4 linked regions of the Homo sapiens genome follow. The protein of the gene in region 4 interacts with the protein of the main gene of each other region in a pairwise test. Each region holds a gene or a part of one and is shown on either strand. Other genes may lie near its edges.

Evidence for each region.
Region 1: the proteins of CBY1 (region 4) and CFAP53 interact in binary tests that used the Homo sapiens proteins (3 or more experiments, as listed by UniProt).
Region 2: the proteins of CBY1 (region 4) and FAM161B interact in binary tests that used the Homo sapiens proteins (3 or more experiments, as listed by UniProt).
Region 3: the proteins of CBY1 (region 4) and TTC23L interact in binary tests that used the Homo sapiens proteins (3 or more experiments, as listed by UniProt).

The regions. Positions count from the first base shown.
Region 1 is NC_000018.10:50,255,861-50,263,854, forward strand, and holds part of CFAP53 (cilia- and flagella-associated protein 53), read right to left. Parts: intron 6,360-7,994; coding exon 6,130-6,359; intron 5,378-6,129; coding exon 5,204-5,377; intron 2,217-5,203; exon of another isoform or gene 2,045-2,216; intron 1,345-2,044; exon of another isoform or gene 1-1,344. UniProt on the Homo sapiens protein: Microtubule inner protein (MIP) part of the dynein-decorated doublet microtubules (DMTs) in cilia axoneme, which is required for motile cilia beating.
Region 2 is NC_000014.9:73,946,101-73,953,942, reverse strand, and holds the start of FAM161B (protein FAM161B), read left to right. Parts: upstream 1-3,850; 5' UTR 3,851-3,916; coding exon 3,917-3,970; exon of another isoform or gene 3,971-4,025; intron 4,026-7,337; coding exon 7,338-7,657; intron 7,658-7,842. Other genes in the region: COQ6 (ubiquinone biosynthesis monooxygenase COQ6, mitochondrial), read right to left, coding at 374-508, 3,448-3,610.
Region 3 is NC_000005.10:34,855,170-34,863,163, reverse strand, and holds part of TTC23L (tetratricopeptide repeat protein 23-like), read right to left. Parts: intron 267-7,994; coding exon 110-266; intron 1-109.
Region 4 is NC_000022.11:38,651,411-38,660,107, forward strand, and holds the start of CBY1 (protein chibby homolog 1), read left to right. Parts: upstream 1-5,227; 5' UTR 5,228-5,340; intron 5,341-8,697. UniProt on the Homo sapiens protein: Inhibits the Wnt/Wingless pathway by binding to CTNNB1/beta-catenin and inhibiting beta-catenin-mediated transcriptional activation through competition with TCF/LEF transcription factors.

The sequences.
Region 1 (7,994 bases), on a different chromosome or scaffold from region 4:
ATGGAATACAAAAAAAAAAAGAGGAAAATTTTCATTCTGCTTTATATTAATATACATATTAAAGCCTCAACTATATTTTCAGTAATAGGGTCTAATAACGCATCCTTACTCAAAAGTATGTCTGAGGATCTATGCTGAGGAGTTGGCAGTGCTTCATTCAAAACACTAAAAACAATTTGTTTTCAAATTATATTACTATAGGATACATTCGTTTCTTTAAGATTTTTAACAATTCATCTAACTAGCAAAAACTCAGTCATACAAGTGAAATCTGTAAAATGTTGCTAAATCCATAAATTTTAAAAGCACAACCACTTACGAACCATTTTGTTTTCTTAATATGTTAAGATAAATTTACTAGGGAGTAGAAAATATATGAATGGTCCATTGAGAGTCACTTGGCTAATATACCATTTTCCACCCACAGCATCTTTTCCCCCCAGCAACCAGTAGCAAAGATGTCCAAATCCCACTGAGGACAGGGTATGAGTGCATGCTTTACACAGGCTTGAAAATCCAAGTCTAATCCTCTTTTGGTTACCTCAAGCTTAAGACCTAGACAAATCCCTACCTGTAGAACTCAGTTATCCATCTACAAGCCAAGGAGGGTGGCAAGTCGCGTCTGGCCCTGTGCGTTACTACTCCGGGTTTCTTCACTGCCCTCCTTCAGCAGCTCCCCAAGCCCTGAAACTTCCCATTCCCTCTCCTTTTGAGAGGGAATTTACTTTTAGCAGCTGCATCTGCAACTTTTATCTACTACTCACTGCAATGGCTTACTTCTCCTTTTGGCCTCTAGTAAGAGGGTTGAGGGTTTAGGGCTGTCCATATTATTAATAGCGAATTCATGACAGAAAGAGCAGATGGAAGAAGCTTTTCTCTGCACCATGTCTTGATCCCTCCACAGATGTCATTTTGCTGCTTTTTCACATCTGTTGACCTTTGGATTTCTGGTCTACTCAAATTTTGAGTGCTATGAAAAATGAACTCTTGTATTCCTTCTGTATTCCACCAGATTTAAACTCAGGTATTTTTGGATCATCCATTCCTGAATCTGGCTTAACATGATACACACCTTGCCCCACTCATACTAGATGACCTAACAACCTAAGTGACACTCACTCTCACAGAGCCTGGCATGAAGTAGGAGCCCAAAAATACTTACTGAATGAATGAATGCTAATGGCTATGTTTTAAACACTTCCAGGTAATATTTTGGACTGTAAAAATCCCTTCTGAATACAAAAACTTTAGCCAGTTACTCTAAAATTAAAAGACAGATGAAATCGATGATTTAGGGCATTCCATGGGTCATTCATGTGATCATCACTGCACTGAGAGATGTATCTGAAAAAAGGGGCAAAATGCACCATCACTACTATTATTCAACATAGCACTGGAAGTCCTAGCTAGAGCAATCAGGCAAGAGAAAGATATAATGGGCATCCAAATTTCAAAGTAAGAAGTCAAATTATCCTTGTTTGCAGATGACACGATCTTATATTTGGAAAAATCTAGACTCCACAAGAAAAGTCTTAGAACTGCAAAACAAATTCAGTAAAGTTGCAGGATACAAAATCAACATACAAAAACCAATAGCATTTCTATATGCTTACACTGAACAACGTGAAAAAGAAATTTAAAAAGTTATCCCATTTACAATAGCCATAAATAAAATTACCTAGGAATTAACCAAAGAAGTGAAAGATCTCTACAATGAAAACCATAAAACACTGATGAAAGAAATTGAAGAGGACATCAAAAAATTGAAACATATTCCATGTTCTTGGATTGGAAGAATCAATATTATTAAAACTTCTATACTACCCAAAGCAATCTACAGACAAAACGCAATCCCTATGAAAATACCAATAACATTCTTCACAGAAACAGAAAAAACAGTTGCTCATGCCTATAATCCCAGAACTTTGGGAGGCCAAGGTGGGTGGATCACTTGAGACTAGGAGTTCGACACCAGCCTGGGCAACATAGGGAAACCCCGTCTCTATTAAAAATACAAAAATTAGCTGAGGGTGGCAGTACACACCTGTGGTCCCAGCTACTTGGGAGGCTGAGGCAGGAGAACTGCTTGAACCTAACCTGGGAGGCAGAGGTTGCGGGGAGCTGAGATCCTGTAACTGCATTCCACCTTGGGCAACATACACTCCAGGCTGGACAACTGAGTGAGACCCTGTCTCAAAATAAAATGAAATAAAAGAAAATAAGAAAAGAAAAGAAAAAACAATCCTAAAATTTGTATGGAACCACAAAAGATTCAGAATAGCCAAAGCTATTCTAAGCAAAAATAACAAATCTGGAGGAATCACATTACCTAACTTCGAATTATACTACAGAGCTATAGTACCTCAAACAGCATGGTACTGGCATAAAAACAGACACATAAACCAATGAAAAAGAATAGAGAACCCAGAAACAAATCTACACACTTACAGTGAACTCGTTTTTGACAAAGGAGCCAAGAACATGCACTGGGGAAAAGACAGTCTCTTCAATATATGATGCTGGGAAAACTGGATATCCATATGCAAAAGAATGAAAATAGACCCTATCTTTCATCATATGCAAAAATCAAATCAAAATAGATCCAAGACTTAAATCTAAGACCTCAAACTATGAAACTACTACAAGAAACATTGGGGAAAAATCTCTAGGACATTGGACTGGGCAAAGATTTCTTGAGCAATACCCTATAAGCACGGGCAACCAAAGCAAAAATGGACAAATGGGATCATATCAAGTTAAAAAGCTTCTGCACAGCAAAAGATACAATCAACAAAGTGAAGAGACAACCCACAGAATGGGAGAAAATATTTGCAAACTATCCCTCTGAAAAGAGATTAATAACCAGAATATATAAGGAGCTCAAACAACTCCATAAGAAAAAAATCCAATATTCCAATCAAAAAATGGACAAAAGATTTCAACAGACATTTCTCAAAAGAACACATACAAATGGCAAACAGGCATATGAAAAGGTGCCCAACATCACAGATCATCAGAGAAATGCAGATCAAAACTACAGTGAGATATCATTTCACCCCAGTTAAAATTGCTTATATCTAAAAGACAGGCAATAACAAATCTTGGTGAGGATGCAGAGAAAAGGGAACCCTTGTACACTGTTTGTGGGAATGTAATACAACCACTATGGAGAACAGTTTGGAGGTTCCTCAAAAAACTAAAAATAGAGCTACCATAAGATCCAGCAATCCCACTGCTGAGTATAGGCCCAAAAGAAAGGAAATCAGTATATTGAAGAGATAGCTAAACTCCTATGTTTGTTGTAGTGCTGTTTACAACAGCTAAGATTTGGAAGCAACCTAAGTGTCCATCAACAGATGAATGGATAAAGAAAATGTGGTACACATGCACAATGGAGTATTATTCAGCTATAACAAAGAATGAAATCCAGTCATTTATAACACTATGGATGGAACTGGAGGTCATTATGTTAAGTGAAATAAGCCAGGCACAGAAAGACAAACATTGCATGTTCTCACTAGTTTGTGGGATCTAAAAATCAAAACAATTGAACTCATGGAGATAGAGAAGGATGGTTACCAGAGGCTGGGAAGGATAGTGGGGGGTTGGGGGTGGAGGTGGGGACAGTTAATGGGTACCAAAAAAAAAAAAAAGAATGAATGAATAAGACCTACTATTTGATAGCACAACAGGATGACTATAGTCAATAATTACAGGCGTGTGCCACCATGCCCGGCTAATTTTTGTATTTTTAGTAGAGTTGGGTTTCACCATGTTGGCCAGACCAGTCTTGAACTCCTGACCTCAGGTAATACACCCACCTCAGCCTCCCAAAGTGCTGGAATTACAGACATGAGCCACTGCGCCCGGCCAATTTTTTTATTTTTTGTGGAAATAAGGTCCCACTATGTTGCCCAGGCTGGTCTCAAACTCCTGGCCTCAAGTGATCAAAGTGCTGGGATTATAGGTGTGAGCCACTGTGCCCAGCCAAATAACAGCAATTCTTAATGTTTACACTCTTAGAAGTATCAGAAGCACTGAAAATATAACTGAGGAATTATAGTAACATTATAAATATATAATAGCTCTTGTTCTAAGAGCTGTAGCTCTAGGGAGGGAGACTATTTAGTATATTTTTGCTTTAGAGGTAAGGAATGTCTTGGTTTGTGAAACTAAAAGCATCTGCCAAGCTTCTGATTATATAACACTATAGATCATCTCCAGAGGATCACTCTTGGGTACTCCCATACAAATCTTCCCTCTGTGTAAGTGCACAGTAGTGGGTAGTCTATCAGGGCACAGACTCAGAGTATCCTACGATGGAAAACCACAATGAAAAGGGATACAGAGGCAACCACAGTACCAGATTGAGTAGATTGAGTACAGTAAAGACCAGGGGTCTGAAAACCGAGGGTCACCATGGGTCTGGGTCAGGAAGTGCCTTATAAGTCCAGGTGATCAGACCCCAGTGATCAGAATACCAGGCAAGGAAACAGACAATAAAGAAGAGAGTAGAGAGGGCCGGGCATGGTGGCTCATGCCTGTAATCCTAATACTTTGGGTAGCTGAGGTGAGTGGATCACTTGAGTCCAAGAGTTCAAAACCACCCTGCGCAACATGACGAAACCCCCATCTCTACAAAAAATACAAAAAAATTAGCTGGGCACAGTGGCGCGTGCCTATAGTCTCAGCTACTTGAGAGGCTGAGGTGGGAGGATCACTTTGGGCTCAGGAGGTGGAGGTTGTAGTCATGATCATGCCACTGCACTCCAGCCTGGATGACAGAGCAAGACCCTGTCTCAAAAAATGACAACCGAAAAACCCCCCAGGGAACCCAAGCACACATGCAGCACAGGTAGAGACTACAGCAGCAGGGGGAAAGCCCAACTTTACCAAAGATTCCTTGGCACAGGGGCTTTTGAAGAACTTCCTGCCAACAGCAAGGGTGAGGTTAATACCTAAAGTTCAGTAACATAATCTCCTTTGTTACTTCCATTCTAATTGAGAAGCAAGCACAGAACATTAGAACATAGTTCTCAAGCACACACTGTATTATTCAATGATATGTAATATATTGCCAAGACTTAAAGTTACAACTACTCTGTATATCCTCTTAAGACTAATTTACTTTAAATTAGCATTCTTAAATCTATTTTAATGTACCAACTTTGGATTCTGTTTGTGTGTTTTCTGATTTCATTACCTGAATTGCTGGTCTAGCTTTTCAGCCACAAAATCCTGCCTCTCTTTTTCATTCTTCTCTTTTAGTAATTTAGTTTTCTCTCTCATCCTATCTTTTTTCTCCTCAATGGTTTCTTTCTTCAATTGCATTTCTGTAAAATACTCATTTTCTTCTAATGCTAAAAGCTCACGTAGCCTGAAACAAAAAGCCAAAAAAAAAAAAAAAAAAAGAAAACTGTCATGCTACATGCATCGTTATATTCAATTTCAGAACTATAGGTCTAATTTGTAAGAAAAGAAAGATCACTGCAGTCTTCCACAGAATAAGACTGGTTGGTTTGTTTTTTTGTTTTTGTTTTTGTTTTTGTTTTGAGACAGGATCTCGCTCTGTCACCCAGGCTGGAGTGCAGTGTGATCATGGCTCACTGCAGCCTTGACCTCCTGGGCTCAGGTGATCCTCCCACCTCAGCCTCCTTGAACAGCTGGGACTACAGGCAGGTGCCCCTATGCCCAGCTGTTTTTTTATTTTTTGTAGAGATGGGGTCTCACTGTGTTGCCCAGGCTGGTCTCAAACTCCTGGGCTCAAACAATCCTCCCACCTCAGCCTCCCAAAGTGGTAGGATTATAGGTATGACCCACTAAGCCCAACCAACTGCACCATATTTTATTTGATCACATACAAATAAGATACGAAATATATATTTTTAACAAAAGAGTAAAATGAACAGGTTTCAATCAAAATAATGAAATATGAAACAATATATTGTTTTTCATCAAAATACAGGCTATCACAAATAAAAATATTAAAAATATTAACCAGCAATAGCTATGGATTTAATATAAACATCTCAGCCATGATCCTTGCTAAATTTGATTTTTGACTGGTCAATCTCAAATTGTGGTTTTAGGAATATTTCATGGTTTATGTCCCAGGTTTGTGAGCCTTACTTATTTCGTCTTTCTTCAATGTTAATGATAAACCCTTGCACAGCATCCTTGATTCTTGCTCGCACAAGGCTGTCCAAAATCTTGCAGTCATTGTGCTGGTCCCACTCAGCTTTCAAGCGATCCCGCTCACTTGACTTAATGGAAGCCAAAATAGCATTATGCTTCTGATGGCTGCGTCGGATTCTTTCTAGATGGTGCTCAGCTCCTTGGCCTTTAGGAGGCTTGGATCTCTGAAAACAAAAACCAACTATCACTTATAATAAGCCAAAGAATCAACTGCATATTTTCAATTAGTTATGCTCTCAATCAATACTCATACTAAATAAAATTGGGTATAAAAAACTAATACATCCTACTACAACTGAATACAGCTTATGCACCTAAAGAGTAACTTGTTTCATTCTCTGAGCCTATACCTAAGATGTCATCAAAACAGTCTCAAATATTTCTAATGTGCCATTTGAAAAATAGTTGATGGAAATTACAAAGTTAAAAATGTGAACAGGACTCTGTTGAGATTGTCTAGTCAAACCCAGAGACATTAAGTGATTTGCTGAACTTGCTTCAAATAGGGCAGATAAAACAAGAATTAGAGGTCTTCTAATTCCCGACCTTGACATTGCCACTCATTATTCCACATTATTTCTCACGGTTGGACACCATAGTTATCACATCAAAATACTTTCAATGAAAAGGTGCTACTATGCGAATATATAGAAAAAATATACATGTGTGTATATACATGTATATGTGTGTGTGTATATATATGTGTATATGTATATGGATATATAACGAGTTGTGATAATGAAAGATCTTTGACTAAGAAGGAAGAAATGAAGTGAGGGAGGAAGAGAGGAGGGAAAAGAAAAAAAGCTGGTGGTAGAACTTTATTCCTATTTCTATGGTGCCCAGAAGTTTTAATGCAAAGAGTGTGTTCCTGACCTTTTGGGCTACTTTGAATTTCTATAAATGTACTGTTTTTACAGAAATGTCCACTAAAAAAGTTAGAAATGCATGTACCATTTGAATATATATAGATACACTTAATGAAATCACATAGCCTATATCTTTTTCCTTTCTGTATTCCTAGCATTGAACATAATGCCTACTACAGTGAGGTCCTCAATAGAAATGAATGAATGAATGAGTGAATGAATGAAACAATGTTGCTGGGTGGGCTTGATGCAATTTCTGCACCTCCTGGAGCCACCATAAAATCCATAGTCTTGAGCTTTGTATTTTCAGGAACAGTTTTATCAAGTCATCCTTAGGTAAGTTGTGAGATACTGGGGTGCTGATTCACAGAAACAAAACTCTTAAGAGACAGAGAGTCAATCTGATCTTTTACATTTAGAATATCACCATCAGGATTACCAGAATACTAGGGTTAGGTGTTTGTAATGAAGTCTCCTGAGGAAAGAAAATCAACATTTGAAGACAGTTTAATGAAAAGATTCAGGGCTCAGGGTACACATATAGGTACCTAGATTTAGCTGAACAAGATAAGGCAAGCCTGGGGTGGTAAGGAGACAGAAGATGATGCTGGGGGTTATATCATGGAAAGTAGCTAATCCATGTCATAATTATCTGGAGCCTAGAGCCAGCTAATTAGATGACTGTTCTCCAATACAGTTGGCATTTTATGAATATAGATCTGTGAAAATAAAGCAGAGGAGGATCACAGTGGCACCCTTGGCAGCATACACAGCAGGAATTAAGGGTCCCAGTGTGAGCTGAGAACAGGAATGAAACACCAAGTAAATCTAGAAACACTGGCTCCAGTTGTCAGGACAGGAAACAGGGCTGAGGGATATTTTGGCTGAAGAGGTGACAAATACCATGAGCAGTACCCAAGGGGTCAGGAA
Region 2 (7,842 bases), on a different chromosome or scaffold from region 4:
GTGTAAGCTCCCTAGCTTGCTAGAAGGCTTGACTCAGGATGAAGAGAGCCCTGCTATTCAAAGTGAATGTTCATGATTAGTTCATATGATTTCAGTTCCACCAATTCATAATGACACAACATCACAAGTGAAGTCAACATGATGGACCCACATGCCTCAAGGATGCATTCCTCAGACAGGGAGTTGAGGCAGTAGCAACTGCAGGGGTCCACATCTTCAACTCTGCCCTAGACTACCAATCCCACCCCCTCTCTCCACCCACCTCAGTGAGCTCCCTCCTTGTCAGATGCTCTGATGACTCTGCCCCATGGGATACACTAGAAAGCTAAGTGGGAAAGGAGATTGGATCTTTGAAGGAGGATCTTCTACTCACTACTGAGAAGCGTTGCAGAGCCAGGGGAAATGGAGCTGACCCTGTTGCTGTAAGTTTCTGACAATTTCTCCAGTACTTTCTTTGGACCTGCTTCGAGCAACAGGATTTTCTTGTCATGAAAGTGAATATCATATCCTTAAAAAAAGAAAATTTATATCATCTTAGGAAAATCAAGAATTTCCTTTCCCATTACCAAGAGAAACAACAGAGTAACCACTTAACCCTTAGAATATGAATTTCTTACAGAGAACATAAACACTATACCCATGCAGAGTCCTAAGCAATAACATATACCACCATTTTAGCTATGAGAACCACCCTGCCCACAACTGTAAGACTTCTCCAAAGACCACTACATGCCACGTGCCAAGAAGCAAATAATGGCAAACACCTAACTAGCAAACAGAATGCCCTAGAAAGGAAAAATGAAGTAAAAAAGTTAGACTACAGTATTTAAACACCAGTTCTTTTCAATCTCCAGAGTATTAAGTCACTAAAAATTACAACTCCTGTTCAAAAGAAAAAGTGGAATAAACAAGCAAAATTCAATGCAGTCTCAAGATTAAACCAAGAATAAAGAATTAGAGTTTATAAAGGCCGGTGCGGTGGCTCACACCTGTAATCCCAGCACTTTGAAGGCCGAGGTGGACAGATCACCTGAGGTCAGGAGTTCAAGACCAGCCTAGCCAACATGGTGAAACCCGTCTCTACTAAAAATACAAAAAAATTAGCCAGGTGTGATGGCGGGCACCTGTAATCCCAGCTACTTGGGAGGCTGAGGCAGGAGAATCGCTTGATCCTGGGAGGAGGAGATTGCACCACTGCACTCCAGCCAGGGCAACAAGAGCAAAATTCTGTCTCAAAAAGAAAGAATTAGAGTTTATAAAAGAAAACGTGAGCCAGGCATGGTGGCTAACGCCTGTAATCTCAGCATTTTGGGAGGCCGAGGTGGGAGGATTGCTCAAGCCTAGGAATTCAAGACCAGCCTGGGCAACATGGCGAGACCCTGTCTCTACAAAAAAAAATTTTTTTTAACTAGCCAGGCATGGTGGCACACCTGAGCTATGTTTGTGCAACTGCAGTCCTACCTGGGGGACAGAGCAAAACCCTGTCTCAAAAACTACAAAAAAGAAAAGAAAAGAAAGAAAGGTCAGGCACAGTGGGTCACACCTATAATCCCAGCACTTTGGGAGACTGAGGTGATGGATCAGTTGAGCTCAGGAGTTCAAGACCAGCGTGGGCAACATGGTGAAACCCCATCTCTACTAAAAACACAAAAATTAGCCAGGTGTGATGGCGGGCGCCTGTGGTCCCAGCTCCTCAGAAGGCTGAGGCAGGAGAATCACTGGAACCTGGGAGGCAGAGGTTGCAGTGAGCTGGGATCCTGCCACTGCACTCCAGCCTGGGTGACAGAGCAGAGACTCTGTCTCAAAAAAAAAAAAAAAAAAAAAAAAAGTTAGCTCCAGCCATACAGACAGTGAGCGGTCCATCTTGGCAGCTTTTGCTGTGGAGGATGGGGCACAGGGACATGCTCTGTAGAGCATGCTCTGTAAAGGGCACTATCTTCTTTTTTTTTTTTTTTTTTTTTTGAGATATCGAGTTTCGCTCTTGTTGCCCAGGCTGGAGTGCAGTGGCGCGATCTCAGCTCACTGCAACCTCCCCCTTCCAGTTTCAAGCGATTCTCCTGCCTCAGCCTCCCAAGCAGCCATGAGAACCACCCTGTTACAGAAGTCTATGATCTGCTTTAAGTTAAATTTTGTGTATCTTGTGAGATGAGGATCATAGGGTGGAACAGCTGCCCTTAGATCAGGGTGTCCAATCTTTTGGCTTCCCCAGGCCACAGTGGAAGAATTGTCTTGGGTCACATATAAAAAAACACTAATATTAATGATAGCTGATGAGCTAAAAAAAAAAAAAAAATCACAAAAAAAAAATCTCATAATGGGCCAAGCATGGTGATTCATGCCTGTAATCCCAGCACTTTGGGAGGAAGGGGCAGGTGGATCACGAGATCAGGAGTTCGAGACCAGCCTGGCCAATATGGTGAAACCCCGTCTCTACTAAAAATACAAAAATTAGCCAGGCATGGTGGCACAAGCCTGTAATCCCAGAGGTTGCAGTGAGCTGAGATCGTGCCATTGTACTCCATCCTGGGCAACAAGAGCGAAACTCCATCTCAGGGAAAAAAAAAAAAGTGAAAAGACTACAAAATGGAAGAAAATATTTGCAAGTCATTTATCAGATAAGGGACTTATACAGAATAAACAAAATAATGGCCAGGCAGGGTTGCTTATGCCGGTAATCCCAGCACTTTGGGAGGCTGAGGCAGGTGGATTGCTTGAGCCCAGAAGTTCCAGACCAGCCTGGGCAACATAGTGAGACCTCGTCTCTACAAAAAAATACAAAAATCAGCCGAGTGGTGGCGCATTCCTGCAGTCCCAGCTATTTGGGAGGCAGAGGCAGGAGGATCAATTCAGCCAGGGAGGTTGAGGCTACAGTGAGCCGTGATCGTGCCACTGCACTGCAGCCTGGGCACAGCGGAAGACCCTGTCTCAAAAAATAAAAATAACTCTTACCACAGTATTCAAGAGACAAACTGCTCAATTAAAAACCGGGCAAAGGGTCTGAATAGGCATTTCTCTAAAGAAGATATACAAATGACCAATAAACATATGAAAGGATATTCAACATCATTAATCATTAGGGAAATACAAGTCAAAACCTGGAGATCCCACTTTACTTACACCCACTAGAATGTCTATAAACAAAAAGACAATGACAAGTACTGTCCAGGATCTGGAGAAACTGGAACTCTCATTTATAAATAACCCCGGGAAGGCCTGTTTTCCCATGAGTAGAACAGACTCTGAACGCCCCTCCCACTTTTGACCCTAATGGACCCTGAAGGACCACACGCATTCCGGCGTGCCCTGGGGTTCCTCTAGGAGGGGAGGGGAGAAGCGTCGCGAGACCTGAGAAATTGTCTTTGGGCAAGTCGTGCTAGGGCTCTCACGGCTCTCATCGTGCCTCCGCGGCCCGGTTTCCGGCCACTAGTAGCCTGGAGAAGGGCTTACCCAAGGCACAGGCCATGGCAGCGCCCACCAGGCCTCCACCCGACACCACCACGTCATACACGGTGTCTGTTGAGGCGCCGGACCACCTGCGCCAGGACACCAGCGGGCCGCTGTGGGGAGCTGCACGCACAGCCCCGCATCGGCTGACAAGCCGGGCCGCCATGGTGCAGACCTGCGCCGTCGCACTCAGAACTCCCGCAGGCCCACCTACGTAGTGCGTCCGGAGCAGAGCACTCCAATCCCGTCCCGCTTCCGCGGCGTCCTCAGAACCGGAAATAAAATGCGCGGAGAAAATAGGCCAATCGGAAAACGAACCTTGCCTCCTCGGGCGGGATGGATCGGAGGCTGCCCTGGAAGCCAACCAGACGCCAAAGCTAGAAAGGGGTGGACCCTGGCCCCGCATAGCTCTCGCTGCCACCGCTGCTGCCACTATCGCTGTCACTGTCGCTGCTGCCTCTGTCCAGCTGAAATGACCGTGGGGAGGCCTGAGGGAGCCCCCGGAGGCGCGGAGGGGAGCCGTCAGGTGAGGAGAGAAAAGAGACTGCCCCCGGGAAAGGAATCCCGGAGAGGAAACTGTTGGGCGTTGCCTTGGAGACAGACAGCAGGGGCGTGTCACGGAGGGGCGTGGGATTAAAATGAGCGTTTAGGGACCAGGAGGCGGACTCTGACTTACAGACCTGAACCTCTCGGACTTTATACGAGGCTCTTGATAGGCAATGTCACTCAGTTTTCGCTTATCCTCTTAGTACTCTATGACCAGTAGTACAATTGTCGTCTCATTTTTGTAGAAGAGAAAACTGAGGCACAAAGAGATTAAGAAAATTGCTCCCCAAATTTGGCCGGGCGTGGTGGTTCACGCCTGTAATCCTAGCACTTTGGGAGGCCGAGGCGGGTGGATCACCTGAGGTCAGGAGTTCGAGACCAGCCTGGCCAACATGGTGAAACTCCGTCTAAAAATTTAAAAAAAAAAAAAAAATTGGCCAGGCGCGCTGGCTCACGCCTGTAATCCCAGCACTTTGGGAGGCCAAGGAAAGCGGATCATGAGGTCAAGAGATCGAGACCAGGCTGGTTTCCATGGCAAAACCCCGTCTCTACTAAAAATACAAAAATTGGCCGGGTGCGGTGGCTTACTCCTGTAATGCAGCACTTTGGGACCTGAGGTCAGGAGTTCAAGACCAGCCTGACCAACATGGAGAAACCCTGTCTCTACTAAAAAAAATACAAAATTAGCTGGACGTGGTGGCACATGCCTGTAATCCCAGCTACTCGGGAGGCTGAGGCAAGAGAATTGCTTGAACCTGGGAGGTGGAGGTTGCAGTGAGCCGAGATTGTGCCATTGCACTCCAGCCTGGGCAACAAGAGCAAAACTCTCTCAAAAACAAAAACAAACAAACAAAAAAATACAAAAAATTATCTGGGCATGGTGGTGCGCGCCTGTAGTCCTAGCTACTCGGGAGGCTGAGGCAGGAGAATCACTTGAACCCGGGAGGTGGAGGTTGCAGTGAGCCAAGATTGCACCACTGCACTCTAGCCTGGCGACAGAGCGAGACTCCGTCTCAAAAAAAAAAAAAAATTAGCCAGGTGTGGTGGCGCGTGCCTCCAGTGATCCACCAGCCAAGGCCTCCCAAAGTGCTGGGATTACAGGCGTGAGCCAGTGCACCTGGTGGACCCCAAACTATTAAAGGCAAAAAGTAGATTGGCAGTTGCTTAGGGCTGGTGGGGTGGGGTGTGGAGGGTTAGGGGAAATAGGGAGTGACCACTAAAGCGTGTGGCATTTCTTTTAAGGGCGATGAAGGTGTTCTAAAATTGTGATGGTAGTTGCACAACTCTGTGTATATACTAAAACCACTGAATTGTACACTTTAAATGAGTGAATATATTGTATAGAAATTATGTCTTAATAAAGTTGTCTTTAAAAGAAAAGAAAAAACGTGCCCAAGATCACACACTGTAGCAGAGCCAGGGCTAGGGTGCATACATATCTCTGACTCTTACCCTGGATTTTAGTAAGCCTGGCTCCTCATCAATCAAGTGTCAATTCAAAATTCCTCCACAATGAAAAATAAAAATCAGCCCAGGACTGAGAAAGTATAACTCAGACTGTCATAGGCATAGATAATGCCAACGGCAAGAGCATCAGGAAACAGTGTTTCTCTCAGGGCCATAACATAGGTGCAAAATTACTAACACCCCTTCTTCCAAAAGGCTTACTGATCAATTACTTACCCACCCTACTTTATTCTTCTCACCTTTTGAATAAGTATTGCCGTTGGGCGGGGCCCAATGGCTCACGCCTGTAATCCCAGCACTTTGGGAGGCCAAGGCAGGCGGATCATTTGAGCTCAGGAGTTGGAGACCAGCCTGGGAAGCATGGTGAAACCCCATCTGTACAAAAAATACAAAAACTAGCCAGGTGTGATGGTGTGTGCTGTAGTCCCAGCTACTCGGGAGGCTGAGGTGGGAGGATCATCACCTGAGCTCAGGAGGTTCAGGCTGCAGTGAGGCATGATTGCACCACTGCACTCCAGAACCTGGGTGACAGAGCAAGAACCTGTCTCAAAAAAAAAAAATTGCTCAGTCATTCGCTTAACTAAATTGTCCCCACTTCATGACAGCACCATTCCAGAGTTGATACCTGGTTCCCTGAATCAATCAGGGAAGCCAACCCTATAAAAATCACACCCTCAACCCTAAGTTCCCTGTGGTTTTCCGTAGTGTCCTGCAGCAAGTTAATAAGCCTAACTGATGTACTGATTACAAGTACATTCCTAATAACCTTAATCTGATGGACTTTATCAACCAAAAAGCTTTCCATAGGCACTCCATCTTTTTATAACCTCACAGTTGTTTATGGTTTTCACAGAATTTATCATCATCTTATATTGTCTGTCTCCTCTTACTACAGTGTAAGCTTCATGAGAGTAAGGACCTTGTTTGTCTTGTTCTCAGCCAAATGCCCAGTGCACATCAGGCACCCAGTAAATATTTTATGAATGAATGGAGTACTGAAAAAGTTAATTGTGTGTCCCACTTCTTAAGACATTGCTCTTCCAGCCAGACCATACTGTCTGTCTTGTTAATCATCCATTCCTTTTTTTTTTTTTTTTTTTGAGACGGAGCATCACTCTTGTTGCCCAGGCTGGAGTGCAGTGGCGCAATCTCATCTCACTGCCACCTCCGCCTCCCGGGTTCAAGCGATTCTCCTGCCTCAGCCTCCCCAGTAGCTGAGATTACAGGCACCCGCCACCACGCCCAACTAATTTTTGTATTTTTGTAGAGACGGGATTTCACCATGTTGGTCAAGCTGGTCTTGAACTCCTGACCTCAGGTGATCCACCTCCCTCGGCCTCCCAAAATGCTGGGATTACAGGCATGAGCCACTGCACCCAGCCATCATCCATTCCTTGACAGAGTGCAAATTAGCTAGAACATGAGGAAAGCAGAGGAGTAGAAATAAGGGAAGGGAGAGAAGGAAGATGAGCAAGAAGTAGGTTAAAACCCAAGTAAGGGAGAGTGTGGCCATCATCATGGGCAGGATTCCTGGAGTGCAGGGGTCAGAAAGCCTGGTGTAGGTGAGGTACTCTGTAAAAGCTTACTGCACTGTATGGCATAGGGAACCAACTTCAGCTCTTCACTTCCCTCTCCATCCCTTCAACCAAGCGCACTTCATAGACCAAGTTGTGAAATTTCTTTAGACCAAGAAACACACCTTATTTTTAAAAATTCCTCCCAAAGTGTTGGGATTACAGGTGTGAGCCAGTGCATCTGGCAGACCCCAAATTCTCCCCAGTCCCTAATATACAGAAGCTTATTCAAAGCGAAATTAAGTTATGATTTGAATACCTTTGAAATTATTGTTTGACCCACAGCCTATTTCTATTCTATTTTAGATATTTCCCCCCGAGTCCTTCGCAGACACAGAGGCAGGAGAGGAGCTGTCCGGGGATGGGCTGGTTTTGCCCAGGGCCAGCAAACTTGACGAGTTCCTCAGCCCAGAGGAGGAGATAGATTCTACTTCTGACTCAACTGGGAGCATTTACCAGAACTTACAGGAACTGAAGCAGAAAGGGAGATGGTGTCTGTTGGAGTCTCTCTTTCAGTCTGACCCAGAGAGTGATGAAAACCTCTCTGAAGATGAGGAGGACCTGGAGAGTTTCTTCCAAGACAAGGACAGGGGGATGGTGCAGGTCCAGTGCCCGCAGGCTCTGAGGTAAGGCACTGCAGCTCCACGGCTGCCTCACTCCACACCTCCACACAGGTCACATCGTGTCTCTGGGCTTCATCTTCCTCTGTAAAGCAAAGAGCACTTCTGCAAGTTGCCATTTACTGAGGCTCTAGCTGAGAATCAGCTTTTGGTTCCAAACAGGTGTTCTGATTCCTCCCCAGGAATCCTGA
Region 3 (7,994 bases), on a different chromosome or scaffold from region 4:
GATCTACAAGGCCTTGGTTCCATCTCCCACCCTCCTGTATGAGATGACCCATCTGGCATGTGTGGCCTGTGGCCCCGAACACTAAACGCAGCTAGGAATGGAAGGATATCGGTTCTGCAGGAGCCAGGCCACGCCCAGAGTGTAGTACAGCTTGACCAGAGCTTCCAGGATTTCCTCTTTCTCCTTATTTGAGGTCGTATTTGCCTTCCAGGTCAACAGTGTATTCTTGGCTGATGTAGCATGTTTCTTGGCCTGAACTGGGAGGCCTGGGGGAGTTAGAGGGTGAGGAGCAAGAAGACAGACATTAAAAAGGCATGCTTCAGTCAAAAACATTCCTGGGAGGGGATAAAGTGGGCAGTGCAGTTGTCGTATGGTCTATAGCATTGGTTCCTAAATCTGGCTGTGAATCAGAATTATTGGAAATGCTTGTAAAGAATACAGGTTCCTGGGCCCCACTCAAGACCTACTGAGTGGGGAATCTCTAGAGAATTGGGGTCCAGGAATCTCTAATTTTAATCTGCACCACAAGTGGTTCTTATTCAGCCCTCTCAACATTAGCCTTCGTACCTCAGTTTGGAACTCAAGACAGAGACAGGAATGGAAGGTGAGTATCCTATTCCTGATTCTACTACTAATGCCATGTGACCTTTTCAACCCACAACGCTTCTCCATCCTCCAACTGTTGAACAACAATAATAATTATAGAAGCTGACCCTTACCAAACACACAGAGATAGTCCAGGACCAAAGTAGGTTATGCCATAGAATGCTGTGCATTGAGTGTTCTGGAAAAGGCATTCTATAAATACAAGGGCTTATGAATGCAATTACTTCCATCTGGGGATTTTTTTTTTCAATCTAAGATGAATCTGGTGATACTAACTGGTCACACAACACACATAAAAAGAAAGCAATTGCTAAATGCAGGGAGGCCCCAAACTAAGAAGACAAAGGCAAGGCCAGACCCCAGCTAGACAGAACTGGTGGGGTTTTTCCCCTTGTTTTTTCTTTTCTTTTCTTTTTAAAGATTTAAAAATACAAACCTGTGTCCAGGGCTGACTTTCCATAGACTGCAGTGAGGGAGCTGCTCTGCTACATACAAAACCCTAACCCAGAAGCAGGTTATCTAATGATTTAGCACCAGGTTCCCCTCAAATATGCATTGCATGAAGGGTGAAAGGGCATCCCCCTTTCCAGCCACATCTCATTTGTCCCCTTGTTTTTTGCTGGTGTTCCTGGGCACTTACTCAAGCTGCTATTTGTCCAGTCAACAGAGGTAGACTTGGGAAGACTGAAAACAACAGGTAGGGTTCACTTTCAGCCCTCTCTCTGCAGGTACCTAGGGGCTGGTAAACACATTCACCCCTGCCAAGTAGGCCACTGTGCCCCTAATCCTCACTTCACACCACCAGCCCCAGTCCTACTCAGCAAGCTGCCTTTGGCTCCTGAAGCCTAGTTTCACAGAATGGGTGCAAGTCAATGGCAATAAGGATAAATTTAAAAGTTTGTCTTTGATACCTGCAGCCCTCATGTGTTCTAAGTGCACCTCCTGAATGAGTTATAGCAATGAAAGGGAACATGGTCTTCCCTGGGAGAGTTCTAAAGGTGACCCAGGTCCCTTCTCCCTTTTGCAACCATTATATAAGCAGCAGTCGTCAAAATAAAGTTCAGTTCTTTTGTGACTTCTGACCAAAGCAAGAACCATAAAAAAGCATTTCAAATGCACCTTTCCAAATTCACAAGATTATGTCTTCCCTCTTTCCAAAGAGCTGAGACAAAAGTACAATGCTTGATCCATGCCCCCCAAATAGGATGATGAAGTTCAGATTGTGCAAGGACACTATAAAGGTCAGCAAACTGGCAAAGTAATCCAGGTTTACCAGAAGAAATACAGCATCTGGCTGGGCGTGGTGGCTCACGCCTGTAATCCCAGCACTTTGGGAGGCCAAGGTGGGCGAATCACAAGGTCAGGAGATTGAGACTACCCTGGCCAACATGGTGAAACCCCATCTCTACTAAAAATACAAAAATTAGTTGGGCATGGTGGTGTGCACCTGAAGTCCCAGCTACTAGAGAGGCTGAGGCAGGGGAATCACTTGAACCTGGGAGGCAGAGGCTGCAGTGAGCTGAGATCGCACCACTGCACTCCAGCCTGGCGACAGAGTGAGACTGTTTCAAAAAAAAAAGGGCATCTATACTGACAGGGTGCAGTGGGAAAAGGCTAACGGCACAACTATCCATGTGGGCATTGACCCCAACAAGGCAGCTATCACTAGGCTAAAACTGGAAAAGAACAGAAAAAGATCCTTGAGCAGAAAGCCAAATCTCACCTAGTAGGAAAGAAAAATAGTAGATATGAGGAAGAAACATTCGAGAAGATGTAGGGGGAAAGTATCCCTATATACACCTTTCATTAAAAACTGCAAAAATAAAAATAAATAAAAGTGATCCAGAGACAAGAAGTCTCTGCAGAATACTCAGAAATATCTGTTCCATAGGTTTCAACTAAAGAGAAAAATGGACTCTGGAGAGGGCTGTGTCCTAAGTTAAGGGTGGCCTTCAAATTGCACTGTGCATTATAAGCACCCTATTAAAATGCAGATTCCTGTCCCACACTTCCAGTAGTTACAGCTCACAAGTTCTGGAATAAGAACCAAGAATACACATTTAAAACAAGCAACCATGTTTCAGGTGGTAACCAAGGATTCCCATTTGTAAGAACTAATCTTGGTAATAATGCAAGGTTGTCTGAGGACCACACTTGGAGAAATACATAGTTAGTAAAATCTTTATCGAAGAAGTAGGACTCATCTTGTTTTTCAAGAGTGGATAGGATTTTGACTGATACAAGGAGGGATTTCCCCTTGGATTAAATAGCTTGAGGCCTTGAAGACAGAACAAGCAAGTGTGTGTATGTATGTGTGCTGCACTGGGGGATGAGGTTGGGTGGATACAGGATGGTTAGGGAAGGTAGAAAGATGACTGAAGGGAAACTCTGAATTGAAAAACGTATAAGCAGCCCGGGCACAGTGGCTCACGCCTGTAATCCCAGCACTTTGGGAGGCCGAGGCGGGCGGATCACGAGGTCAGGAGATCAAGACCATCCTGGCTAACACAGTGAAACCCTGTCTCTACTAAAAAAAAATACAAAAAATTAGCCAGGCGTGGTGGCGGGCGCCTGTAGTCCCAGCTACTCTGGAGGTTGAGGCAGGAAAATGGCATGAACCTGGGTGGCAGAGCTTGCAGTGAGCCGAGATCACGCTACTGCACTCCAGCCTGGACAACAGAGTGAGATTCCGTCTCAAAAAAAAAAAAAAAAAAAAAGAAGAAGAAAAGAAAAGAAAAGAAAAAAAAGAAAAACGTATAAGCTATGCATTGAATATGTAAAAAATCTTGGATGATGTCTTAATTTGTATGTCAGGTATAAAATACCTGAGACCAGGTAATTTATAAAGAACAGAAATTTCTCACAGTTCTGGAGGCTGAAAAGTCTAAGATGAAGACGCCAGCTTCTTGTGAGGGACCTCTTGCTGCATCCACATATGATGAAAAACGGAAGAGAAAAAGAACCAAACACCACAAAAAGCCTCTTTTATAACGGCCTTAATCCCATTCATGAGGGAGGGGCCCTCATAGCCTAATCACCTCTGAAAGGCCCCACCTCTTGATGCTATCACAGTGGCAACACCTGAACTTTGGAGTGGACATGCTCGAACCATAGCAGATGCCCAGATGAGGAGGGGGAATTAGATCTGTTATGTAACAGGGAGTCTTCACAGGTCTGGAGGAAGAAGGCAGCATCACTAGTTAGGTCACAGAAAACTCTGCTTCGGATACTGGAAGCCGAGATGGCTACTTTAGACCAAGAAAACAAAGTAGAAAACTGAGAAAGTGTTTTGATCAAGCAGGTCATTTTCCACAAGTAGGTGGGCCGTTAGGAGTGTGTCATTAAGGACTATAAAAACCAAATTCAGACAGTTCCCTGGGTCCTTAGGAAGAAGAAAGGTGAAACTGCAGGAGCTACTAAAAACCACCCCAAATGAGCGGACACTCCTTCTGGGCTTGTGAATGTCAAATAAAACAACTACCACTCAAGAAAGTTGTTCTGAGGCAGTCCCTGAGGCTTTTGAAAGCCTGCACCCTCCCTGCAAAATATCCCATGCTGGTTGTGCAATTCCCAGGAGGAATACTTTTCCTCTCTGCTCAGCAGCTAATCAATCATAGAGTTCCTTGCTTTCACACGACTAGGCCCCACATTGTGGGCCTTCTGATGGAAAAGCTGAGCCACAAGGGGCTTAAGCAAACTGAACAAGGATCTTGATTTAAAACAATTTATTATATTTTAAGCCCTAAAGGGAAAAAACTTCTTTCACCTTCCCAGAATCCTCTCTGATCTCCAAAGTGGAGTGCATGAACTCTACAGGTATGCAAGATGCCGTAAGAGTGTGAGGGGGAAATCAAAACTTCTCTATTTTTTTTTTATCTGAAGCCTTTTTCTATTTTTATTACTATTTATAATATTACATAACACATCAATACTGTTGTACACAATCTATTTAAAATACATGTATAAAAAGTAATTGATTGTTTGCTTAAGTTTCTTTTAGTGATAAGGGAGCTGTCTCTTGAGTTTGGAGACCACTGGCCTAGACAAATGTTTTCCAACCTTTTCAAGTATGAAAGAGCTCTTTTTATATTTTAAAAAAACCACAAGGCTTCCTCCACTTGTGATAATTATTTTCATAGCACATACTACTTGAAAAAATTCATAATGACAAAAGTACTATGAATTCAGTATCAGCAACACTTTGAAATGAATTTACATTTACTAAGTCTAAGTACGTCCTCTTTCATGTAAAAACTCTCTGTATATAAGATTTATTATTGTATATATCTATGAAGGATGCTTCATAGATCAAGTTACTTTTCTGTATCTGCCCTCCCAAGCCAAGGATACCACCCTTCTACCTGCACTGACAGTGCAGCAGTTTTCAAGGTACAAGGCAGAGGGGCAGCAAGGCCTGCTTCTGGAGCCCAAGATTCAGAAATTACAAGGAAATATTGATGAGATGGCAAAATGAGTCCAAAGATTGTCCAACAAACATATCAATCATTTTGCTTTAGTTTGGGTTGGGATTCTATCATCGATTCTGCTACACTGACTCAGGCCAGAGAAAATCTGCTCAGAGCTACCCAATCTTTGGAGGTTGTTATTGTCACCAGAAAGCAGTCACCTTTGATCAGCATCTATATTTAAGCAGTTACTGTGGCACGGTAATTAAAAGAGCAGGGTCTAGAGCCAGACTTTCCAGGTATAAATCCTTGTTTAGTCATTATGACTTGAACATCCTTATGACTTGAAAAAGTTACTTTATCTGTGCCTGTTTATTCACCTACAAAATGGTAATGAAAATATATCCTGTAGAGTTGTCGCAAGGATTAATTTAATATAAAAAAAGGATTAAATAGTACCTGAATGAAGTGAGTTTGAAGATATATTAGCCATTATTATTATTATTACCAAGGTCCATTTCTCTTATTGAGTAATTTACTATATTTGTACTTATTTTCAACATTTTTCATAGCACTGTTTACAGAATCTTTGTAAAAGGCTTGCATTCTCAAATGCAGACTCACTTCAGGTAGGTATCAGGCTTCTTGTGGGTCAGATTACCCGGTTTTTATCATTCCCTGTTGTTTCTGTACCAGTTTTTGTGTCTTTGTTTTAACCAACTAGACAAAGAAAGCATGACTTAGGCTTCTTTTTCTGGATTTTGCAACATTTGTAACAGAGCCCCAGTACCTGGAAGATTCCCAGTAATAATAGGCTGACTAAAGTACTGTTTCATTAATAAGCAGAATTTCAGAAAACTGCTTGTCCACGTTACCATATTTTCCTTCCTGAACACTTGAAAACAGTTCACCACTAGTTACCAAACTACCATGGTGATCTCCGACTGCCCTTTCTCAGCTGCTGGATCACTAGGCTCATTAGGATCATCACCAGGGCAGTGGGCCATAGAGGTCCACTTCTAGTGTCACTTGTTCTGTTTAACAAGCGAACCAACTTTTATACACTCTGCTTTGCAAAAGCCTCACATTCTCTTGTGAATCCCATTCCATCAATTACTCCATTAAAAACATCTTTAAACCCTCTCTTCTAACTGGCTCCTTCCTCTTTGCCTAAAATCTTCCTGCATCTCCTTCTCTTGTAAAATCATCTTCACTAGCCTCCGGTCCCTATTGCTTCCCTTCATCCCTGGGATCTGGCTTCTCCTCCAACCACTATGGGGAAACTGTTCTTCTGAGGTCCCCTCAAAAACATCCTAATAAATGAATCCAACTGCAGTTTTTCAGTCCGCATTTCACTGCAGCATCAGATACCCTTACCTGTTTGGCTCCCAAGGCACTGCACCAACCTGCTTCTCCTTTATAAACCTTCTGTAATTGATTCTTTGCTAACTCTTTATCAAGGTCCTTTGTTCTCTACCATTAATGTGTCCATTTTCCAAATCTTTCTGTTTCTTCCACTTCTCTCTTTCCCTCTTGGAAGTTTTATCAACTCCTATTACTTCAACCTTGGCTTCCATGCTTATAATTTACCATTTCCCCTCTTTAGTTCTGGTCTCAAACATTCCTCCATGCTTATGCCTTTCCTTCTCTCCTCCCAAGTTCTGGTCCCAAATTTCCAGCACAAGTGAAAATGTATTACAGGTTGAGTATCCCTTATCCAAAATGCTTGGGACCAGAAGTGTTTCAGATTTCAGATTTTGTTCTGGATGGGGGGAGGTTTTTGGATTATTTGCAGATAACCAGTTGAACATCTCTGAAATCTGAAAATCTGAAATCCAAAATGTTCCAGTGAGCATTTCCTTTAAGCGTCACATCAGCATTCAAAAAGTTTTAGATTTTGGAACATTTTGGATTTCAGATTTTCAGATTAGCGATTCTCAACTTGTGGATTCTCTATTGCAATTCAAAATCTATACATCAAAAACTGGACTCAGCATTCCTCTCCCAGTCCACTTCCTTTCTGACCTACTTCTCTCTGAAAATGGCAATTTCAGGGGCCCAAAACATCATGGTCATCTTTGGGCCTCACTGTCACTCAACCCCAAATCGAACACCATGTCCTGCCTACTCCTTCTTAATGGTCTCTGTCTTTTAATAATCATTTTTGAATAGGTAACACATTTCTATCGTTGAAAAGTTAAAAATTATAAGAAAAAGTAAACACTGAGAGGTCTCACTTCCAATCTTGTTCCCTTTGTCCCCAACCACCCTCTAAGTAACTTTTTTTGTTTCATTCTTGTGTACCCTTTGGTGTTTTTTATATAAAAATAAGCCTACATTCTCATTTCTTACTCCCTCTTACACAAAAAGAGGCGTATTATAAACACCATACTGCATTGTGCATTCTCTTTTCCCTAAAGAGATCTTTCCCTAGAAGGATATAGAGATTCCTCATGTTCTTTTTAAAACTCCATATATCCCACTGTGTGTATGTACTAGTTTCCTATTGATGGATACTTGCTTGTTTCCAATCTTTTCCTATCATGAATGATGCTGCAAAGAATAATCTTGTCCATGTTATCAGTGTGTATTTAGGAAAGATTCCCAGAAGTGGGTTTCTGGTTTAAAAATAAGTGTATCTGTCGTTCGTAGACTCTTGAATCCTTACCTTCTCACCCATTCTCTCTGGCAGCCTAGTTTTAGACCTAGATGACTGAGATGGCTTCCATTCCATCACTGCTAGATTAACCCTGCCAAAAGTACACTTTGATATTTTTATCATCCTGCTGGAAAATCTCCACTAGTGCTCTTTGCCTATCAAATAAATTACAAATTCCTTAGCCTGTATTTAAAACCACACCATGGCCTGCCCAATGTACCCTTCTCCTTTCCAGGTTTATCTTACCAGTCCTAACCTTAGCCTGCCCAATGTACCCTTCTCCTTTCCAGGTTCATCTTACCAGTCCTAACCTTAGCCTGCCC
Region 4 (8,697 bases):
TCGTCCAGACTGGAGTGCAGTGGCGCGATCTTGGCTCACTCACTGCAGCCTTGACATCCTGGATTCAAGCCTCCCGTGTAGCTGCGACTACAGGTACCTGCCACCCACAACTGCCTAATTTTTGTATTTTTAGTAGAGATGGGGTTTCACCATTTTGGCCAGGCTGGTCTCGAACTCCTGACCTCAGGTGATCCACCCACCTTGGCCTCTCAAAGTGCTGGGATTACAGGCGTGAACCACCACTCCCAGCCCCTTCTGAATATTTCATACCATTTTAGGTATTCTCTGAAACATGGTAAGTTTTTACTGCCATTACTTGGGGAGGATAAAAGGAGAGGGAAGAAAACTAGCTTCCTTAAATATCTACCCTGTGGCAAGCAATATGATGTGCTGGGGGCAGGGCAGAAGAGTGGAAGAGTAAGAAACCTTCTGCCCTCATGGAGCACACATTCTGGCAGTCAAGATTCAAATGCCCTGTTTAAAGTTAACATATTTGGGCTGGGCGTGGTGGGTCACGCCTGTAATCCCAGCACTTTGGGAGGCCGAGGCAGGCGAATCATGAGGTCAAGAGTTCGAGACCAGCCTGGCCAACGTGGTGAAACGCCATCTCTACTAAAATACAAAAATTAGCTGGGCATGGTGGCAGGCCCCTGTAATCCCAGCTACTAGGGAGGCTGAGGCAGGAGAATCGCTTGAACCTGGGAGGTGGAGGTTGCAGTGAGCTGAGATCATGCCACTGCATTCCAGCCTGAAAGACAGAGTAAGACCCTGTCTCAAAATAAATAAATAAAGTTAACATATTTGATGCTTCTCAGAAGAGGCGATATGAAAAAAAGAAAAATTAAAATAACAAAAAAGTTAATATATTTGAGCATATAAAAACAACGCTGACTTTAGGCCAGGCGCAGTGGCTCACACCTGTAATCCCAGCACTTTGGGAGGCCGAGGCAGGCAGATCATGAGGTCAGGAGATCGAGACCATCTGGCTAACATGGTGAAACCCCGTTTCTACTAAAAAATACAAAAAATTAGCCGGGCATGGTGGCGGGCACCTACAGTCCCAGCTACTTGGGAGACAGAGGCAGGAGAATGGCGTGAACCCAGGAGGCGGAGCTTGCAGTGAGCCGAGATCACGCCACTGCACTCCAGCCTGGGCGACAGAGCGAGACTCCATCTCAAGAAAAAAAAAAAAAAGGTCGGGCGTGGTGGCTTACGCCTATAATCCCAGCACTTTGGGAAGCCGAGGCAGGTGGATCACGAGGTCAGGAGATCGAGACCATTCTGGCTAACATGGTGAAACTCCGTCTCTACTAAAAATTAGCCTGGCGTGGTGGCGGGCTCCTGTAGTCCCAGCTACCAGGGAGGCTGAGGCAGGAGAATGGCGTGAACCTGGGAGGCGGGGCTTGCAGTGAGCCGAGATCACACCACTTCACTCCAGCCTGGGTGACAGAGCAAGACTCCATCTCAAAAAAAAAAAAAAAAAAAAATGCTGACTTTAGCATCTGACAGACTTTTTAGTATAACCCTCAGTCATACAATCAGGGGTCCCCAACCCCAGGGCCATGGATGGGTGTAGGTCTGTGGCCTGTTAGGAACCAGGCCACACAGCAGGAAGTGAGTGGCAGGTGAGTGAGAGAAGCTTGTCTGTATTTACAGCCACTCCCCATTCCTCACATGACTGCCTGAGCTCTGCCTTCTGTCAGATGAGCTTCAACATTAGATTCTCATAGGAGTGCAAACCCTATTATGAACTGTGCATGCAAGAGACCTAGGTTGTGTGCTCCTTATGAGAATCTAATGCCTGATGATCTGTCACTGTCTCTCAGCACTCCCAGATAGACTGTCTAGTTCCAGGAAAACAAGCTCAGGGCTCCCACTGATTCTACATTATGGTGAGTTGTAGAATTATTTTATTATATGTTACAATGTAATAACAGTAGAAATAAAGTGCACAATGAATGTAATGCTTTTTTTTTTTTTTTTGAGACAGAGTTTCACTCTTGTTGCCCAGGCTGGAATGCAATGGCACAATCTTGGCTCAGTGCAAACTCCGCCTCCTGGGTTCAAGTGATTCTCCTGCCTCGGCCTCTCAAGTAGCTGGGATTACAGGTGCACGCCACCATGCCTGGCTAATTTTTGTATTTTTAGTAGAGATGGGGTTTCACCATGTTGGTCAGGCTGGTCTCAAACTCCTGACCTCGTGATCTGCCTGTCTCAGCCTCCCAAAGTGCTGGGATTACAGGCATGAGCCACCGCACCCGGCCTGTAATGCTCTTGAATCATCCCAAAACCATCCCCCCCATCCCAGGTCTGTGTAAAAATTGTCTTCCATGAAACTGGTTCCTGAAGCCAAAAAGGTTGAGGACTGTGGATGAAATGATTATTTACTGAGTACCTACCATAAGCAAGCAGCATGCTCATACTCGGGACAGGAAAGTGAACTAAACCAGACTTGGTCCCTGCCCTCAAGGGGCTTACATCTACTGGAGGAGACAGGACAATGAGTCAATTACGTAAATCATAATTATGAGTTATAACTGTCATCACTACTTCAAAGGGAACAACACTGTAAGATGACATAATAGTGTGTTTTGACCATACAAGGAGATCAAGGTGCTAAAGGAGGAGCACAAGTTAATTAGATAAAGGGGAGCAGGGCCGGGCGCGGTGGCTCACACCTGTAATCCCACCACTTTAGGAGGCCGAGGCAGGCGGATGACGAGGTCAGGAGATCCAGACCATCCTGGCTAACACGGTGAAACCCCGTCTCCACTAAAAATACAAAAAACTAGCCGGGTGTGATGGCAGGCGCCTGTTGTCCCAGCTACTCTGGAGGCTGAGGCAGGAGAATTGCTTGAACCCAGGAGGCGGAGCTTGCAGTGAGCCGGATCGCGCCACTGCACTCCAGCCTGGGCAACAAGAGCAAAACTCGGTCTCAAAAAAAAAGAAAAAATGGGGAGCGGAAATAATATGCCATCCAAAATGTACCATCCAAGCAGCGGGAAGTGAGGCTGGAAAGGTAGGAAGTGCCCAGACTGTGCTGGCCATCAAAATAGCACTAGCTACATGTGACAATTAAGTCCTTGGAATTTGGTTAATGTGACTGAATAAGTAAAATTTTAAGGCTGAATGCAGTGGCTCATACCTGTAATCCCAATACTTTGGGAGGTGGGGATGATGTCACTGCACTCCAGCCTGGGTGACAGAATGAGACCCTGTCTCAAAAAAATAAACAAAAGGCTGGGCGCGGTGGCTCACGCCTGTAATCCCAGCACTTTGGGAGGCCGAGGCAGGCGGATCATGAGGTCAGGAGATCGAGACCACCCTGGCTAACATGGTGAAACCCCATCTCTACTAAAAATACCAAAAAAAAAAAAAAAAAAAAAAATTAGCTGGGCTTGGTGGCGGGCGCCTGTAATCCCAGCTATTCGAGAGGCTGAGGCAGGACAATGGCATGAACCCAGGAGGCGGAGCTTGCAGTGAGCTGAGATTGTACCACTGCACACTCCAGCCTAGGCGACAGTGCGAGACTCCATCTAAAATAAATAAATAAATAAATAAATAAATACCAAAAAAAAAATTAGCCTGGCATGGTGGCGGGCGCCTGTAGTCCCAGCTACTTGGGAGGCGGAGGCAGGAGAATGGCGTGAACCCAGGAGTCGGAGGTTGCAGTGAGCCAAGATCATGCCACTGCACTCCAGCCTGGGCGACAGAGCGAGACTCTGTCTCGAAAAAAAAAAAAAGTAAAATTTTTTTAAAGTAAAGCAATAAAAGAATGGCTACTCCATAGATAGAACAGCCAAGAGTAAAATTTTAATTTTAATTAATTCAAATTTTGGCCAGGCGCAGTGGCCCGCACCTGTAATACCAGCACTTTGGGAGGCCGAGTCAAGCAGATCACCTGAGGTCAGGAGTTCGAGACCAGCCTGGCCAACATGGTGAAACGCCATCTCTACTAAAAATACAAAAAATTAGCCGGGCATGGTGGTGGGTGCCTGTAATTCCAGCTACTTGGGAGGTGAACACAGCAGAATCGCTTGAACCCGGGAGGCCGAGATCATGCCACTGCAATCCCAGCCTGGGCAACAGAGTGAGACTCTGTCTTAAAAAAAAAAAAAATTAAATTTTTAAATGGAAGCAGTGCAAATTTAGAAATACTGATTATATCTTGAAATAGTAATGTTTTGGACATATGGAGTTTAAAACATTACTCAAATTAATTTCACTTGGCTTTCTTTTTTACTTTTTAAAAAATGTGGCTACTAGAAAATTCCAAATCACATATGTGGCCTGCTTTATGTTTCTATTGCACAATGCTAAGCCAGATTGTGAAGATTTTAGTTCTAGGACATGGAAGTCTCCCCTCTTTTAATGCAGGGTGGTGTAGTTGGAAGAGAACTGCGCTTGGAGTCAAAGACCCCTGGGTCCTGCCCCTCACTGGATGCCCTGATACACCCACTAGGCAGCCGGTAAACTCCTTGAACGGCCTAAGTTTCTGCACTTATCAGACGGAACCAATAACACACGCTTTTAGGACTCTAGGAGATCTGGAGTTGATTCTCCAGTAGTTCTCTGTCCCTTCCTCACAATGCAACCTTTAAGTAGTCCCTGGGCCTCAGCTTCCCTTGCTTGTAGAAGCCGCCATAACGGCACGGGGAGGGGGCAGGCTGCCAGAGGTGGGTCATGGTGCGTCTGTCCGTCCGTCTTACCTGAAAGCATCGGCGGAATTTGACGAACCCGGGGCCGGTCCCGCCACGGGTCCCTCAGGGGACCCCGCAAAGTTCTGGGTCGGCCCCCGACAGCCGGTGCCCCCAAACTCACAGCAAGGGGTGCCCTTTGCCTTGTGCTGGGGGATGAGGAGGGGAGTTGGGGAGAGGCCCATTTTGCTACTCTGAGTCCAGGCGTTCTCTAGGCAACGCCGGCGCGGTCTCCACTTTCCCGTTTAGCATAACAATGGAACCTTCGTGAGCCGCCGCGTTGTCCGCGAGATGCCGTTTCTATGGTGACAGCCGGGCCGGGGGCCCAGACCAATGTGTCAGTGGAGAGGGTGAATGCAGGTCCTGGTCCTAGAGGCATGAAAAGGACCCCAGAAGACACTGCCTTTGTATAATCCGTTTGCTATCCCGAGGTGATTCACGGAGTTTCTGGGGATTGGCGCAGGCTGGCGCTGGGAACCCCCGCGCCGGTTACCCCTTTCCTCGGTGGTAGAGGCCGGGCGGGGCAGCGCATGCGCGTGGCGGGCAGGCGGCAGGAGGCGGGTGGGTCAAGGTAACTCTGGGCTACAGAGTCCTTGCTGGGGGTTCGGGGAGCGCTTGGACCCCGGCTTCTGGGACGCGTCAGGTACGTCTCCGAGTCCGGCGTCGCCGGCCAGCGCTGCCTGGGTTCACTCGGGGGCCCGAGCTGAGTAGGACGTCCGGGCCTCGCCTGGAGAGAGGCTTCAGGAGGGCCTGGGGAAGGGGACGGAGGCCGGGCGACCCCGGGCGGTGGCCGCCCTCCTCTGTGTGTCTCCGCGGTTGTGAATTGGGGCGGTAATTCCTCCCCGTAGGTCGCCGTGAAGATGATTGCATGAGATCGTGCGTGTGAACGTTTGTTGACAGCTGTTACTTGAGTCCGACAGCCCTGGGGGCCGTGCATCTGCGTAACATGGCTACCTCTGAACTCCTTGGGGGACACGTATATCTTTGAGAATCCGATGAAAACCAGAGATTCCGCCCTTGTTTTCTTAGAATTAAAGTAAGATAATATATTTTATGGCCTGTTGCAAACGGAAAACCTTTACACAATGATTAGTGATTAGTATCAGTATCTGTGGACTGGGAAGGCTCTACTTACTCGATCCTCTTCCCAGGGTCGTTGTGAGGATCAAGTGCACAGCTTCCTATAAACACTAAAACACTATAACATCTTGTGAGCCAGGTACTATTATTATTCCTCAGTGCAAAGAAAGAAGCCGAAGTCCAAGGGGGATAAATGCTGGGGTCCCACTGTGGGTGAGCCGCAGAGTGATCATTGGAAGCCAGGTGCTCCCCCTTCACTTCCTGTGTGCGGAGCACGCTCGCCCTGGGAGTTTCACTAGAAAGAAGGTTGCCATGGGCCAGTGGGACAGCTTGTATCTCAAGTGCACGCGGATGCCCCAGAATCCCAGGATCTCAGCTGAGCTGTTTGTGGATTATTAGATCTGACTTAAAAGGTAGCTAATCCAGACCCTTCCTCATCTGTAATACATGGATGACAGCTCCCAGCTGTAGTGTTATGAGAATTAGTGCGGTCATGAGTAAGGTGCCCAGTTAAAGCCCGAGAAGTAAAGCAGCTGGGCCAAGGTCTAGCAGGCAACTGAAGGGGAGAGCCAGGCCCCTAAACTTGTTGTGTCCAGCCCATGTGCTCAGGCCCAGTGCAGTTAGCATCAGTGGGGACTTGACTTATTTCTCCTTCTTCAAATGTCTCTAGATTTTAGGCATGCTGGGGGCTGCTTCTTAACTGTGTTTTGTTTATTTTGTTCATAAGTAATACATGAATATATTCTCATTGTAATAATTCATTAAATCTCGAGTATATTTAATATAATTTTATATTGTACCATATGAAATTGTCACAATTTGACCTTTTTTTAACCTATAAAATGACAAGTTCATTCAAGTCAGTCATCCTATTCCCTTTTTCAGGTTTAACCACTATGAACAGTTTGGTGTATCCTTCCAGATCTCTTTCTTTCTTTTCTATTTTTTTTTTCTTTGAGATGGGGTCTTGTTCTGTCACCCAGGCTAGAAAGCAGTGGTGCAATTTCAGCTCACTGCAACCTCTGCCTCCTGGGTTCAAGCAATTATCCTGCCTCAGCCTCCTGAGTATCTGGGACAACTGGCGCACACCACCACACCCGACTAATTTTTGTATTTTTAGTAGAAACAGGGTTTCACCATGTTGGCCAGGATAGTCTCGATCTCTTGACCTCGTGATCTGCCCAACTCGGCCTCCCAAAGTGCTGGGATTACAGGCATAAGCCACCGTACCTGGCCTCTTTCTTTTTTTTAATACACACATATATTACTTTATTTTATTTTATTTTTTTTTGAGATGGAGTCTGACTCTGTTGCCCAGGCTGGAGTGCAGTGGTGCGATCTCGGCTCACTGCAAGCTCTGCCTCCTGGGTTCACACCATTGTCCTGCCTCAGCCTTCTGAGTAGCTGGGACTACGAATAGATGGGACTACAGGCTCCTGCCACCATGCCAGGCTAATTTTTTGTATTTTTAGTAGAGACGGGGTTTCACTGTGTTAGCCAGAGTGGTCTCCATCTCCTGACCTCGTGATCCGCCCGCCTCGGCCTCCCAAAGTGCTGGGATGACAGGCGTGAGCCACCACGCCCGGCCTATTCTTTTATTTTCACTTTGTCTTATCATATGGGGGAAATACCATACACATCATTCTGCAACCTGCTTTCGCAGTGTTAAAGCATGTCAGAAGTCTTTCAGGTTAGTTCATATACAGCTATCTCACTGTCTTTAATTGCTATTTACAATTTTATTTTTATTTTTATTTTTATTTTTTGAGATATAGTCTCACTTTGTTGTCCAGGCTGGAGTGCAGTGGCGCAATTTCTGCTCACTGCAACCTCTGCCTCCTGGGTTCAAGCAATTCGCATGCCTCAGCCTCCTGAGTAGCTGAGATTACAGGCGCACGCCAACATACTGGGCTAATTTTTGTATTTTTAGTAGAAATGCGGTTTTGCCATGTTGGCCAGGCTGGTCTCGAACTCCTGGCGTCAAGTGATCTGCCTGCCTTGGCCTCCCAAAGTGCTGGGATTACAGGTGTGAGCCACTGTACCTGGCCTACAATTGGTTTTTTTTGTTTGTTTGTTTTTTGTTTTTTTTTGAGACAGAGTCTTGCTCCGTCGCCCAGGCTAGAATACAGTGGCACAATCTCAGCTCACTGCAACCTCTGCCTGCTGGGTTCAAGCCTCAGCCTTCTGAGTAGCTGGGATTACAGGCGTGTGCCACCACACCTGGCTAATTTTTGTATTTTTTAGTAGTGACAGGGTTTCATCATGTTGGCCAGGCTGGTCTCAAACTCCTGACCTCAAGTGATCCACCTGCCTCAGCCTCCGAAAGTGCTGAGATTATAGGCATGAGCCACCGTGCCCGGCTTAGGCCCACAATTTTATTATAAGAATGTGCTGGCCGGGCACGGTGGCTCACACCTGTCGTCCCAGCACTTTGGGAGGCCAAGGCGGGCAGATCACAAGGTCAGGAGATCGAGACCATCCTGGCTAACACGGTGAAACCCCATCTCTACTAAAAATACAAAAAATTGCCCAGGTGTGGTGGCAGGCGCCTGTAGTCCCAGCTACTCGGGAGGCTGAGGCGGGAGAATGGTGTGAACCTGGGAGGCGGAGCTTGCAGTGAGCCGACATCGCACCACTGCACTCCAGCCCGGGCGACAGAGTGAGACTCTGTCTCAAAAAAAAAAAAAAAAAAAAAGAATGTGCCACAAATTATTTGGCTACACCCAAATTGTTTGGATTGTTTCTTATTTTTTACTGTTATCAACAATAGAGAACATTGGGTGTGAGCATGTCCAAGTCTTTCTGGAGTGTAAAATTTTAGAAGTAGAGTTGCTGTCCAAAAAGTGTACACATTGACAATTTTGCCAAGTTTTGAGTGCCCTTGAAAGAATTATAGCATCTTCTGATTCCACCAGTAATA